Linked DNA regions of Homo sapiens: all the other regions are linked to region 1. Evidence: fine-mapped expression QTL. A gene starts in region 1. Each other region holds a variant in brackets. All regions are shown on one strand. Distances are between the middles of the regions.

Region 1 (5,230 bases):
GAAAAAAATGTTACCAATTAAACTTTGACATGCAATCAAAGTTTTAAAGACTCACCCTGATTACAAAGATGTTAAAAATAGTGGAGAGGAGTGAAATATGGTAATTGTATCTACCTCATAGAATGGTTATAAAGACAAAATGAGTTAAAACATGTAAAACCTTTAGTAGAACAGTCCCTGACATATAAGTGCTCAACGTTAGCACACAGTATTCGCCAAGCTTTACTTTCTGTAGTGGGTAATTCTTTCCTTTACTTTCGGTAGTTTGTAAAGCAAGAGATACTGAATATGTATATCCAAACTGCATTCACTCTACCTTGCCTCAGCACACTCATACTCACACATTCAAAATCCAAATACACAGCCTAATCTCCTTCATCTAATGTAAGATCCTTTCTTATTCTAAAGCAAGATTTTCCAAGCCATGGCCTGGGCTGCTGGAGGCCCAGGATGGCTTTGAATGCAGCCCAAATTCGTAAACCTTCTTTAAATGATACGAGATTTTTTGCAATTTTTTTTAAGCTCATCAGCTATCATGAGTGTTAATATTATGTGTGGCCCAAAGACAGTTCTTCTTCTTCCAATGGGGCCCACGGAAGCCAAAAGATTGGCCACCTCTGTCCTAAAGAGTTATAATGTGAGTCAAATGTATGATTATCTTTGTGTGAAGGGCATTGCACCTGACTCAGTTTGATACTGCCAAAGCATGAGGATATTCCTGGTAAGATGTTTATTTTTCCCAGTCTTCAGCTCAAATTCTTGACATTCAGTCTGGGCAAGTACACTCACCAGGTGTATGCTTCACACTCAAGGCACTGAAGTACCTATGGAAACTGATGACTTACTTCTGGAGAAGGCTTTATAAACAATCCCAGATTGCTACACTGACTCATAAGTCCCCATCTGACATTCTATTCTCCCTGCTGATGACAGATCTTGATAAGATGAAATCTATAATCTAAAAATAATAGTAGTCCAAGGTTATCAAAAGATAAAAAGCACAAAAAAATAAAAGGAAGGGGACTAGATGTTTATTTATCTTAGGACAATAGTACTGTAGTTATAAAATTTCTCTCTACTACCATTACATAAATTGAATTAAATTACTGTTCTTTTATACCAAATTGGCATAAAATGATTAATAGTAGTTAAAAGAAATATTTCCTCAAAACCACCACAAATCAATGCATCAACATTGCTAGTTTTACATGATTGTAGATAAACCAAGGCCTTGCAAGGTCGTATGGCTGTGATCTGGAGAGAGCTGGAGAGAGGCCAAAAGGTTATAAAGAATCTAATTTTTAAAATCAATTTAGTATACTAAAAGCTGTTCACCCAGTATGGCTCTAGAGTACAATATTTTTAATTCTCAAGAGTTGGAAGAAATAAAGCAGCAAAACTGACCAAAATTGAAAGATCTCCTGGGATGAGAATACAGCGCAGACTCCAACAACCCGTTTATGGATATTTTGCCAAAGTAGGTGTAAATTTAAACGGGCACAGCGCTAATTTGCACCTGTCCATTACACATTACATCTTGACTGATTAATCTCACAGTCACCAAGAGCTGGCCAGATAATGGCTTTGATAGTATTAAGAGCCAAAAATAAAAGATCCTATCATTATTAATTTCCCTCTGCCTGTCAGCCTCTCTCCCAGTGACATTTTTACAAAGGAAAAAAAACAATCAATCAGCAAGGAGAAGTAAATATCCCTTGATTACTGAAAGATAATTCATTCTCAAATCAGGTCATATTTCCTTTTCCCCTTTACACCAATTTCAAAACCCATGGCCAAGGCCTGCTTTCAAAGTGCTTACAACTTGCTTTCAACTGCCCACCTTTACGCCTGTCAACCCACAACTTCCTTCCAAAAATCTGCTCTGGTGCCTTAACTTTGTAAAAAGTGTGCACTCCGAAGCCTTTAAACGTTTCTGCATCACAAAAGCTGGGTGGCACCTCTTCCATTTGGCCACAGGCATCTTTTGCCAGCTGTCGCCCTTTTGGCAAAGGAAAATGGGGGCGGCCCTTGCCGCTGTCCAACAGCCCAGACTGGGTGTTACAGGGCAGAGGCAAAATTAAACAAAGGCTAAGGAGCCGGACCCTTAAGAGGCAGGACCTGCGACCCCACTGCTGGCAGCGGTGCCCCTTGCAGGGCGGCCTTGGGCTTCATGCGCCCCGGGCTGCCCCCAAGGACCGCCTGTCCGACTTCCTGCACGCGAGCCCCTGATCTGGAGCGTCTCCCCGAACCCAGACCGCTCAGGAGCCGGACCTCAGCAGCACTTTTGGCCAGGTCCAGGGTTGGCGCCCCCGACCCCAGCGCGGGCGGCTCGGGGCGCCCAGAACCACCAGCCATTGTCCTTTGGTGGCCCCCACTGGGGTCCACTCAGTTGGCCTCGGGCGCCGGCCGCTGCTGGGGACACCTGGGGGAACCGCCTCCCCCGCGGGCCGGGCCGGCGGAAGGCCGCGTGGGCGTGTGTTGGGCGATGGGGGCGGCCTCCAGCCGCCGCGTCGCCGCCTCCCCCACGGCCTGCCCGGGCAGAGGGGAGGGCCCGCTCACCTCGGTAGCGGCGGGAGGCGAGGTGGCACGCTGCGAGCAGCAGCACGGCCACCAGCGCCAGCACCTTGGCGCTCCTCACGCTGAAGTAGTGGTTGATCTCCCGCTTGCCCAGGTTGTAGGCCAGAGCCGCCATCTTGGTTCCTCCATGACAACAGTGCGCGGCGGAGCGGGAAAGGGGCGCCGCACAGGGGCAGCACTGGGGCTGCCGCCGCTGCAGCCAGGCGAGGAGCGGCCGCCAGCTCCCCAGGCCGCCACCTGCGCCTCCCGCCGGGGAACCTGACCCCGCGGCCGCGGCGCCCCCGACCTCCGCCTGCCCCTCCTCGGCCGCGGCCGACTCGGCGGCCTCCCCCCAGCCCCGCCGCCGCTGCTCCGCCGTGCCGGTTCCCCAGGCGCCCTGGACGCCTGTCTCCTCCCCTTCCTCCTCCTCTTTAGCCTCCTGCCTTAATAGCGGCTGCGCCTGCGAGGGGGGTCCGGATGCCCAGTGCTCCGGGGTCACCGGGTCACGCGCCCCGGCGGGCGGCGGCGGCTGCGGCAGAGCCATGGGGGTGTGGGGAGAGAGTACTAGGGGTACCCGCCTGGCCCGGACGCGAGCCTTAGGGCTGTCTCCTAGTTTACTGGCCGCTACCTGAGCCCAGGTTGGGGCAATAGAACTACAGTTCCGGGAGAAAAGTACACATCGTCCCATTCCTTCCTTCCCCAACACTCCCCTTTCTCAGCCTTCTACTGCCAGAACCCGCCCAGCGGGATGCGAAGGACACCCTAAGGTCGTTTATTGTCTGGCTATCCGTGGCCTGGCTGGTCAGTCTGGCTGCCCCTGGGTGCTGGCCAGATTGGATTGATGGATCCAGTTGATGGTGCTGGCCGATGGATTGCTGGCATCCAACCCAGGAGTGAAACCAGTCTTAACACTTAACTCACCGCTCTGGCCAGTTTCTCTTAAACCGTTTTTTTAATGTCCTCAGTTTGCCCAGTTCTGGTGGGCGAAAGTACACCAAAGTTCCGAATGGAAGGTACAGAAGGAGCCTAACTTAGTGTAGGTGTTGATGAGAAAAGAGTCTGACTCTCACTTGTATTTACGCAAGTTTGGCTAGGTCGATGTGCCAAAAAAATTCGTTTTTTTTGAGAGGGAGTCTCACCCTGTCGCCCAAGCTCTAGTGCAGTGGCGTGATCTTCGCTCACTGCAGCCTCCCCCTCCTGGGTTCAAATGGTTGTCCTGCCTGAGCCTGCCGAGTAGCAGAGATTGCAGGCGCCCGCCACCACACCCGTTTAATTTTTGTATTTTAATAGAGACGGGGGTTTCACCATTTTGGTCAGGCTGGTCTCGAACTCCTGACCTCAAATGATCTGCCCATCTCGGCCTCCCAAAGTGCTGGGATTACAGGCATGAGCCACCAAGCCTAGCCAAAAAAAATTTTTCTTAATGTGCTTATGACAATCATCCCCGCTACTAACGTTGGTTAATGTTTTGTGATTCTCAATAAAGCCAGCACTCCATTTCCTTAATAAAGCATTGTTATCCCTACTCTCCTCTCGCTCCCACCCCACCTTTTTTAAATGGTTTTTCTTGTTGCCTTCCAGATGGGAATGGTTATTTACATTGCTTGCCATTCTACTTGCCTTGCCTTGTTTAGAGTGAGTCATTGTTTAGTTGGGGTGTTGTCAAGTATTCTTTACAACTTTCCCATTTAGCCATTCCTGAACTTGTGCTTATAGGCCCCTCTTAAAATTATAGAATATTAGATATGAAGGGACTGTAGAGATCTTGTCTACTCATTCCCATTCTCTTCATCCAAGGACTCTTTATTATGTTTTCATCCATGGACTTTATATCTTGAAAGATTTTGTCACTTAAATGAAATCACATACATCACTGTCATGGATGTAATGCTAATAAGCAATAAAGTTAAATAAGTGTACAAACACTTAGGCACTGTTCCCTGCAAATAGTCTTTTAATTTTGGCTGTCATTCTGATCAGAGGTTGATCACATGTTGTAAGAATTGGGTATTGTAAAAACCAGATAACTCTGCCAACAATATATGGTCTGCCAATCACATCCTAGACATTTCTATGATGTCATTACCAGCAAATTAGAATTTCTGATCAGCATGCAATAACCAGTGTTAACCCAAAGGGTTGAGTTAATGCCTGCAAAAAGTAAAGAAACTTGACATTCTATTAATTGCAATTTCCAGAAGGCTTTCTTAAATACTGTAAATAGCTTGTGAACCTCCTTTTTCTTCTCTCAAGTTTAAGGCCAATCTCTCTACCTCTGCTCTGAATCTTTTCTTATCCTCCTTTCTTGAGGGTGTTGATTCCTCCATCAGTTATCCCCATGCAAATCATTCTTTTTCTGTGTCTTCCAATTCTCCCTATCACCTTGCTGTTTGCCTTCCTCCAAAAAAAATTTTTTTTTAATGAAAAACACCCATGGACTCTGTTCCTGCATGTTTACCTCATCAACTCTTTCCTCCTCTGGCAAACATCTAGAAAGAGCAGTGTTGACTCTCTGCCTTCACTGGCTCAATTAGCATTCTCTCTTCAGCCATTTCATTGTTCTTCACCAAGGCTGTGTGGTATGACTACTTGTTAAATCCAAGGGACACTTTATATTCCTTATCTTCCTGGACCATTTTGTGGCACCTGACATTGTTGACCATTCTTCCTTATT
Region 2 (5,230 bases), 48 kb after region 1:
GACTGAACTAATTTACAGAAACTAAATATTGCACATTCTCACTTATACACTAAGTACACGTAGACATAAAGAAGGGAAAGATAAATACCGGGGCCTACTTGAGTGTGGAGGATGGGAGGAGGGTGAGGATCAAAAAACTACCTAGTAGGTACTATGCTTGTTACTTGGGTGACAAAATAATCTGTATACCAAAGCCCTGTGACACATAATTTACAAATTATATAACAAATCTGCACATGTACCCCTTGAATCTAAAATAAAAGCTGGAAGGAAAATAATAAAAGGAGGTTAGCCTGGGACACAAGGGTTTGTATTTTTAAGTCTTTTTAAAAAAAAGGAAAACAAGGGGAAAAAACCCCACCAGTTCTATCTAGCCGGTGTTTGGCCTTGCCTTTAACTTCTTAGTCTGGGGCCTCACTGCATTTAGCAATTGTATTGTTTATATGTGTGTTGTGTGACCAATTAGTATCACCAAGTTCATCTTAGATTGAAAAAAAAAAAATCCCCAGATAGAAGTAGTTGCATTCATAAGCCCTTATATTTACAGTATGCCTCTCCCAGAAAGCTCAAAACACAACCCTATGGTATAACCTAGTTTGTTCCTAGATTATCTCCATGTGTTTGGTAAGGAGGAGCTTCTGTAATTATTATTGTCATTGGACGTTTCAGAATGGAGAAAATTTATAGGTTGAAAAGATCACATGGCATTGGTGGCAGAAGCAGGAAGGAGATATCCAGCTTCCAGTCCTGTCTTTATTAGTGATTTTCAAACTGAGGTCCACAGACTAAGGCCTAGAGGGCTGAACAAGAGCCACTTGTAGAGCTAGCTAAAATGAGAGATTCCTGGACATCACTTCTTTAGAAATTCCTATTCAGTAGGTCTGGAGTCAGACCCAGGAGTCTTTACAAGCAATTCAGATAATTCTGATTCACAGACAAATTTAGGAACCAGTACTATATGTCATATGACAACTAAGCTACCCACCTTGTACCGTCAAAAAAAAAATTTGCCTGGTATGTTTTTTTCCTACTCTTTTAAAACCTGCCTGTGTTGTTTTAATTTGTATATCATGTTAACAACACTCAATAGTTTGTTAACAGAGACTGATTAGCTTAAATCTATTTTGGGAATTTCACCCATTCATATTTATCATAATTACTGCTACGTTTAGAATTATTTCTACCTTCTCATCCTGAATTTTAAATTTATTATAATTCTTATTTCTTTTTCTCATGTCCTTTTTTATGTTGCATAAAATAAAGATTTTCCTCATTGTTTTCTCTTGTTAAAATTTTCTCCCAAGACTGGGTGTGGTGGCTCACGCCTGTGATCCCAGCATTTTGGGAGGCCGAGGCGGGTGGATCACGAAGTCAGGAGATTGAGACCATCCTGGCTAACATGGTGAAACCCCGTCTCTACTAAAAATACAAAAAATTAGCCAGGCGTGGTGGTGGGCCCCTGTAGTCCCAGCTACTCGGGAGGCTGAGGCAGGAGAATGGCGAGATCCCAGAGGCGGAGCTTGCAGTGAGCTGAGATCACGCCACTGCATTCCAGCCTGGGCGACAGACAGAGACTCTGTCTCAAAAAAAAAAAAAAAAATTTATCCCAAAACTGGGAAATAAGGCAGAGGGAATAAAGCATATCCTTTCATGTCATACTGGGGGTGACTAAGGAAAGCAGATTACTTAGTGATCTAGAGGAATATGCCCATGTTTAAATTTGCTGTTTGCTATTTGACTATAGCTTAGACACTACGAAGTTACATATTAATTTGTAGATTTTTGTCCATTAAGAATGATAATCCTATTCATAACTGTTTTGTTTTGTTTTTTCCTAGAGTACATTTTGTATTGTTAAAGTGTAATTTTCAAAAAGGTAAAATTAATGACTCTCATAAAAAATGTTTATATGACAAACATTTTATTCAACTCATTTATTAATGAGAGAACTAGTAAAATATTAAGATAACTTCAAACAACATTTGGGAAGCTACATATTTCTGTCATTTAATAACATGTTCAAAGAAAATTTAAAAATAAAACTGTCTAATAGTCTACAGGATAACAAACCACAACCTTTGAAGCTGTTTTCTACCAAAAGAAATTATTTACACCTCCACTGGAAAAAATATAAAAGTTAATATGTAAATTCATTAAATCTGGACCCTTAATCAATGATAAGCAGTGAGTCGAAAGAGTACATTTCTGTAAATCAGGGGTTGATAACTATAGCCTGCAGGGCAAATCTGGCTTGCTATGGGCCAAACCTAGCCAGCCTATTAGTTCATGTATTACCTTTGGCTGATTTTGTGCTAAGAACCTGTAGCTTGCAATGCCAAAAATATTTACATATTCTCTAGTTCTCTACAGAAAACATTTGCAGAATCTGCCTTAAGTAACCCTTGATTAGGTCTGTGCCCCTTTATAATATCGAAAGG[C/T]AGCTGCTTTAATTCCACATTTTGGATAATTTTTCTTAATATTGTCTAACCTAGCAATTTTATTCTAACATTTTTGTTTTTAAACATTTATTTATTTATTTATTTTTATAGATATGTGATCGGTGGGGGGGCCATGTCTCACATTGTTGCTGAGGCTGGTATCGAACTGCTGGGCTCAAGTGATCCCCTCGCCTCAGCCTCCCAAAGTGCTGGGATTACAGGTGTGAGACACCATGCCTGGCCCTATTCTAACATTTTTAAATGCTTACCAAAAAAAAAACAAGCCATTTTATAAATCTTTAACATGTGTTCTTTCTATATTTTCATGACAGTCATGCTTTTAACTTTGAAAATTATATTTTGATGCTTTTTTCCTCTGTTATCTTCATGTTTTTAGCATGCACACTTTTTAAGTAAAGAGTATCTTTATCTTCTTCTTCCCCCTCCAAAAAGAAAAAAAACTAGGCTTGTTTTGTCCTTCTTTCTTGTCTTTCTTACTCACCTGAACTCCCTAACTCCCATCTCATTAAATCTATTTTTTTTATCATCTGGGATTGTAGCTCCAGTCACCATTAAAGACAAATTTAAAAAACAATTAGTACTTACATGGATATGACAATGAAGATTTACAAGATGTCTATTGATTATTGCATACCATTAATTCCTTCTAGTCCACTTTTTTGGTTTGGTATGTTGCTATTATCAATTTTTTCGAAGATCACCAAAGGATGGTAAAATTTCTGAGTTCTATGTATGAAAGTCTCTTAATTTCACTTTTTGGGGCAAACTTGCCTGCATATAGATTTATATTTTTAAAGTTTTATTCTTTTAACATTCTGATAATGTGAATTCATTATCTTCGTATATTGTTGATGAGAAGCCTAATATCAATCTGATTTTTCTTCCTTTGTGAGTAATTTTTTTTCTCTTTCACTTGTGGCTTTTAGAATTTTTTCTACTTAAAAAATATTTTGTAATAATTTCCAAGTACAAAAGAGTTGTAAGAACAGTATAAAGAATTGCCGGGCTGGGTGCAATGGCTCACGTGTGTAATCCCAGTACTTTGGGAGGCTGAGACTTGGAGGAACGGAGAGGGGCCAGGCGGTGGGGTGTGAGGTGGATTGCTTGAGGACAGGAGTTTGAGACCAGCCTGGTCAACAGAGAGAGACCTTGTCTTTGCAACAAAATACAAATAATTTGGCTGGTATGGTGGTGTGCACCTGTAATCCCACCTCCTGGGGAGGATCACTTGAGCCCAGGAGTCTGAGGCTGCAGTAAGCTATGATCTCAACACTGCACTCCAGCCAAAAAAAAAAAAAAAAAAGAACTGCCATATCCTCTTTATCCAGATTTCCCAATTGTTAACATTTGTACTCTCTCTCCTTAACTATTGTTATTCTTTTCTAAATAATTTAAGAGCAAATTAAGGACATGATGCTCCATCACAACTAAATATTTAAATGTATATTTCCCCAGAATAAAGTCACGCTTCTACATAATGACAATATAGTAATCCAAAGCAAAAACTGGTATTAGGCATCATTACAATCCAATCTACAGATGCATTCAAATTTTATCAGATGTTCCAAAAGTGTGTGTATGTGCATGTGTTTTTTTCATTACTTGTCCAGGTTCAGATGTATTTAGTTTTGTGACTTTAATTTCCTTCAGTCTGGAGAAATTCCTCAGTCTTTGTTTGTTATAAACTTGAGAATTTTAAAGGACAGGTCTTCTGTTTTGTAGAATGTCCCTTTTCTGTGTCCAATTGATGTTTCTTTATGTCCAGACTTAGACCTAGCTGACTTGGTGGAAATACCACAGATATGATGCTGTGTTCTTCTCAGTGCACCCATCTGGAGGTACATAATGTTGACCAGTCCCGTGACTGATAATGCTGATCTTAATCATGTTGGTTTCTGCAAAATTTCTCCATTATAAAGTCACCATTTTCCCTTTGTAAGTGTTGAAGATTTTGGAGAAAGATACTAGATTATACCAATATATTGTTCTTCTTCAAACTTCTATCAAGAAAACTTGGCATCAATTGACAGCTCCCGTCTGCATCAATTACTATTATGATGGTTGCTATATGATAATTTTATATTTCTCTTTCTTTTGGCTTTTATTAACAGAATTCTACCAAGAAAGAGCTTTTCTTTATCCTGTATGTATGTATGTATGTATGTATGTATGTATGTATGTATGTCTATATCAACTCAAGGATTTCTATTTTATTCATTGGGTTGTGATCAATTATTATTATATTTTTAATACTCAAATTTTCAAGATGTAGCCAGCATGAGTTCCTTCAGAGCTGGCTCCGGTTATTCTTTTAGTACTGTCTTACTTTGCGGTACAACAAGATGTTTCAGACTCATTTTGTGCTTTTCTTGCTCCCGTCCTAGAATCAGCTATTTCCCCAAAAATCTTGAATTCCTTTCAGTGGAATATGAAATTTTGAAACTAAAATCTAGGCACTCACTTATATTCATTGTTAGTTCTTAAAGAGTGTCATTGCTTCTAGACTCTTTCAGTGAATAAAACATATATGTGTTGGAAAGAAAGAGGGGCACAACAGACATTGGGGCCTACTTGAGGGTGGAGGGTGGGTGGAGGGAGAGGCTCAGAAAAAGAAAAAGTGTCAGGCACCATGCTTATACCTGCGTGATAAAATAATCTGTACACCAAACCCCTGAGTCACAAGTTTACCTATATAGCAAACCCGCACATGTACCCCTGAACCTAAAGTAAAAAGTTAAAATATTTAAAATAACAAAAATATGTGTATATAA
Region 3 (5,230 bases), 53 kb before region 1:
TGGGAGAATGTCCTGGTGGAGGGAAGCATCCTTACTAATGTGATAATTGAGGCATTTGAAGGTTTTGGGAGGAACAGCACCTACAGGGACAGTTAAGTCAGTGGGTTATTGCTCACTTGTATGACTGTCCTGTAGATGGAGGATGAGAAGCTGAAGGCAGTTAACAGACATAAGCTAAGTTTTACAGCCACAGGACCTTTTAGGACGCTTACAAAGAGGAACTATACCTTCAGTGGGTGGTAAGTTCAGGATTTAATAACTAGGGTTACAGAGCACCAGAGGTGTTTAAATGCTCAGCCAAGGCAGGTCTATTACGCTAAATTTAGGACCCTTATGTGAAGCCTGGGACTCTGAAACATGGGTTGGGAATATACACAGAACTAGTCTTGCTATTCACAATGGGTTGATAGGCCCCAAAATAATAGAGGCCAGGTAGTGGCACATAAGTGTCAGAGTTGCTTTACCATTAGAGTCTTGGGGGTAGCCAAAGGGTCTTAATGGGAAGGAGTAGTATACATAGATAATAGAATATGGTGTCTCTAGGGGAAAAATAGATGGGCAGCGAATTACTGTGCTACTTAACATATACAACCAGAAGGCAAGAATAGAGGAGCAGGAGGCTGAGAGCTGTAGCCCAATAAAGCACTGCAATTCCTTGCTGATTTCCCAGATCTGAGACTATGTTCAGATCTGGAACCCATTACCTAAAGAGTTAGCCAATTTCCCAAGAGAAAGAACCCTGCAATGCAATGACAAAGATATAGAGTACTGCAAAGCTTTCTTCAGTTCTTCCCTCATAGAGATTTACAGACATTTACTAATGTGATTGTTGCTGTTAAAAGGAGAGTAACCAGCCTTTTTGACAACTATTTGACATTGATACATGAAGACCCAAAGTATTTTCATGGCCTTCAGAGTGGGCGCACGCAAAGACTAAGTAGTAAATGGGGTTCTGGCCAAAGTAGGTTCACTATGTCCATGGATCCATCCTGTTGGACCATGCACCCCATTTACTACTACTTTAGCCAGGACCCTGCAGTCATTTCCTGAATGTATAATTGGAATTTATATACTTGAAAATTGAAGTTAGCCTCAATTGGGTCCTTTGCCTGTGGGGCAAGAGCTATCATAGAGGATGAAGGCCAAGTGGAAGACTTTGAAACTGCCTCCCTAACTGCCAAAGACGGTAAATTACAATTTCTTATCCCAGGGGTGATGGAAGGTATTAGTGCAACCATTAAAGATCCAAAGAATGCAGGGATAGTGGTCCCTATCATATCACTTTAATTCATTAGTCTGGCCCTGCAGAAACCAGATGGATCTTGAGGAATATCAGTACACTACAACAAGCTCAACCAAGCAGTAGCCTGGACCACAACTGTTGTGCCAGACACAGTTTCATTGCTAGAGCAGAGTAGTAAGGCCTCAGGTACATGTCTACTGGCTTAGTGAATGTGTTCTTTCCATTCTAATCAGAAATTGTGTGCATTCACATGAAAGAGACAAAAATACTCATTTGCTTCTTCGCTATGGTAACTCTTTTGCTGTGTCATAAAATAGTCTGAAGAGATCTAAACTATCTAAACATCCCATAGGATATTATGTTGATTATGTTGAGGACATCATGCTCATAAACTGGTTATCACACTGGAGGTCTTGGTGAGACATGCGTACTCTAGAGTATGGGAAATAAGCCATTAAAAGACTAGTAGTCTTGCCACTTAAGTACACTTTTTAAGAGTCCAGCAGTCAGGGCTATGACAAGACATGTCCATCAAAATAAAAAACACATTGCTGCATCTTGTATTCCCTACTGCAAAGAAAGAAGCTCCTAGTGCCTAGTAGGCTCTTTGGGTTCTGGGGGCAACACATTCCACACTTAGGGATACTGCTCTGGACATATACCAAATGATAAAAATGGTAGCCAGCTTTCAGCGGGGGCGTGGGGGAGGGGGGCTAAATGAGGGCTGTGCTATTAATGAAAAATGTATGGATTTGATAAAACAAAAAATGTAAGAAATAACAGTCAAAACAGAAGACAACTGGCAACTGGGAAAAGTGTTTGCAAAATTAGAGTTTTCATCCTTATTACACAAGGAATACTTCTAAATTACCAAGAAAAAGACAAGCCCTTAAGTTGCACAAGGATAAAAAAAAATAAGCAGGCATTTTAAGAAAAAAATTGAAAGTGGTAAGTAATTAGTTATGGCTTCATTCTCTAATTGACCAAACCACCAAAAAATTGTTTTTCCTCAAATTCCTTAGCTATGTATAAGAGTTTTCCAGAGCTTAACTATTATCTCCACAGAGGCCTTTTCTGACCCTTGCATGGAAGACGCCTCTTTAATGTTGCCTCCGTTTAGGATATTTGGAAAAG[G/T]GGGTAAGGAGGGAGGTAGTATAACCACTTTTCTTGTGTGGTCCACTCAACGTCTTCAGGTTCCATGTCCCTTCTTGCTACTCATTTCTCCAGCAATTTAGTCACTACTCACTTTGTCATACATCATTGGAGATTCATAGAGCAGAACCCCCCTAAAGGTGATACTGCTGTTTCTACAAAGGCCTTTGTATGTAAGATAGGGTTGAGCATAAGGAAGATCTTACTCCTTCTAGGTACCATCATATCAGGTTGTTCCGGTGTCTCTTATTTTTCTGAAGGGCCAGGAAAACTAAGCTGTAAAATACAGGAATTTTCCTGAATCCTCCAGCATTCTCTGGCATAAAAAAAAAGGGGGTCAGCTGAGACTACATCCCAGTAGGAGACCACCTGGTCTAAAATGAAACCACTCCCAGACTGGAACATGTTGACATGGCAGTAAGAAGCATCCATAGAAGAGGTTATTGCTACGTCATAAGGGCAAGTGTGTACCAACACCTTGAGTTTGCAGCCTGACATCTGGTCCACAGAGCAGCAATTTCAAAAGAGGAAACAATTGGCAGTTAGAGAAGGAAATGGCATAGCTACCATTGGAATTTTTGGTAATCTCAAAGAAAAAAAAAAGGAAACTGTATCGACTGAAAAGAAACACATGAAGTGAACAGGATAAGGAGAACTTTCGGCCTTATTTTCATAAATTGCAGAGAACTGTGAACATTTGTTATAGGGACATTTCGTGAGCAACTCAGGGACCCTAATGAGGAGATAAATGACTTGGAAGACTAGGATTTTCAAACATAACCAGTGAGGCAAAAATATTACTACTACCATTTGTATATACTATGACTCTTGATCATCCTGACTGGTGTGGTCTGAAGAAACACTTAGGACTACCAGACTGCCTCATTTCAAAAAAGAATGTAAGATGGCTTATAAGGCTAGGCAAAATATAGCCAAATAACATCATCTGAAGTATATGAGAAGGAAAAAGGGATCAAGAATGAGACTAATATAAACAATACCAAAGTGCCCTGTTTTCTAGATGGAGCACAAATTTAGCTCTTGCTTCTTATCGGCAAACATAAAAAGCCAACTCACAATGTACCTAAGATAGTAGCAAATGAACTGTTTACAAGAGGTGCAAATATTACAGTAAGGTCAGAATAACTTCAGACTCCACAAAAAGAGCCCATTGTGTGATGTAATCAACATTCCTACAGTTGACACAATGATGAGTTTCATAGAATTGTTTATAGAATGTCCTGCAATGCTAACCAATGGCTTCAAACTCAAGAGAAATTCTAGGGGTAAGTCAGGAAGTTACTGTCCAGGCGGTCTTTGCTAGGTGCTTGCCAGACTTAATTCTCAGGTACATTCTAAAGTATCTGAGGAAGTGATAAAAAGCAAATCCCTAACATTCCTTTATAAATACTGTTAACCACAGTCAAACTCACAGAAGATAGATATTAGCTAGCTGACGGTTCATGACTGGAGTTCAGCCACCCTAGGGTTCTAAGAAAAACTGTCTTAATGAGACATTAAGCTGGTGTAGGAGTGACATCTTTTAGGCAAACTTGAGTTTAATAATCAGTAGTTTCTGAGAGAATACTCTAGAGTTTGACCGAGGTTCTCTTTAGGAAAAAAAAAAATTGAATCTGTGCTCTCACACAGACAGATGGGCCATTTAGGTTCCAAAGTTCTGCTCAATATAACCTAGTCTTAATTAATTTTAGTTTGGAAAATGTTTAAGGAAGGCATAACAGTGGCCATTAAAAAATCTTTGCCCTCCCCGCAATTCCCAAAAAGCATCCATAGAAAGCCTAACTTTGAGTACTGTGGTTTCCTGATGTTCTTCCAAGTTAAATTATTTATGTAATGAACATTGAGGTATCTGAATGAAGTGACCTTCTGTGTAGAATTAGGAACCAAGTGAAATTTGGAAAACAGCTTGGTGTTTCTAAACTATAAGAGCTCTCTATATACCCAGGATATTAATTTTTTTTTGAGGCAGAGTTTCGCTCTTGTTGCCCAGGCTGGAGTGCAATAGCGTGATCTCGGCTCATTGCAACCTCTGCCTCTGGGTTCAAACGATTCTCCTGCCTCAGCCTCCCAAGTAGCTGGAATTACAGGCCCCCACCACCACACCTGGCTAATTTTTTGTATTTTTAGTAGAGATGGGGTTTTGCCATATTGGCCAGGCTGGTCACGAACCAGGACATTAAATTCTCATCAAATATTAATGTTCTAAAATGTTCCCACTTGTATTTTTTCTATTATGTTTTTGGGCATACTGAAATTTTAAATTTTCACGTAATAGATGTAGCAATTCTGGATTTACCTTTTAGCCTTAACAGGTCATTTCTCATCTAAGAATGAGATGTTCACCTACATTTTCTACTGTTTATTTTACATGTCTTTAAACCTATTAATCATTTTATATTTCTTTTGGTATACAGAGTAAGAATGGGAATTTATCACTCTCACCCCTCAATTAAGCAATAGTCCCAGGGCTATTTAAAGAATATTTCTACCTTTCCCCAGTAATGTGAAATCAAACCATTACCTTATTCTAATATCTTTTGATAAAATCTGTTTTTATGCTGATTCTATCCATTAATCTATATATTCTTGCATCCATTCCACACTGATATTAGTGTAAATAATATATCCAAATATACAACTTTACAAATCCCACTTCTCCCGTTACTCTAAAACTTTTCCTGGATATTCTGGCCCAGGTATTACTTCTTTATAGTTTCCATTTTTAATTTTGTAGTCTCTGAGAAAGGGCTCCAGTTCCATGTGCCTTATGCATTACGTACTTTGGAAGTACTGGATTCCTCAGACTTCAACTAA

Alleles and levels. Positions count from the first base shown, and alleles are read on the strand shown. Sizes are in standard deviations (SD) of each study's normalised expression.
For the expression in anterior cingulate cortex of the gene that starts at base 2,968 in region 1, C is the low allele of the variant in region 2 and T is the other (small effect, 0.38 SD a copy in GTEx).
For the expression in tibial artery of the gene that starts at base 2,968 in region 1, T is the low allele of the variant in region 3 and G is the other (moderate effect, 0.52 SD a copy in GTEx).

What was found. PIP is the estimated chance that this variant, and not a neighbour inherited with it, causes the effect.
Region 2: its variant is the best candidate, but not a certain one, in a credible set for the expression of CASD1 in anterior cingulate cortex (GTEx, PIP 0.70).
Region 3: its variant is the best candidate, but not a certain one, in a credible set for the expression of CASD1 in tibial artery (GTEx, PIP 0.53).

The regions. Positions count from the first base shown.
Region 1 is chr7:94,507,547-94,512,776 of GRCh38, reverse strand. It overlaps CASD1 (CAS1 domain sialic acid O acetyltransferase 1), which reads right to left and starts at 2,968. Exons shown (of 18, transcript NM_022900.5): 1 at 2,560-2,968. The coding sequence starts at 2,692. RefSeq lists silencers at 2,305-2,664, 2,765-2,914, 2,955-3,174 and enhancers at 1,708-2,694, 2,695-3,683.
Region 2 is chr7:94,459,609-94,464,838 of GRCh38, reverse strand. No RefSeq gene overlaps it. Among named protein-coding and RNA genes, the nearest start is that of CASD1, 48 kb to the left of the region's middle. The variant C/T (reference allele first, on the strand shown) is at 2,439.
Region 3 is chr7:94,560,395-94,565,624 of GRCh38, reverse strand. It overlaps a transcript of CASD1 not described here. Among named protein-coding and RNA genes, the nearest start is that of CASD1, 53 kb to the right of the region's middle. The variant G/T (reference allele first, on the strand shown) is at 2,378.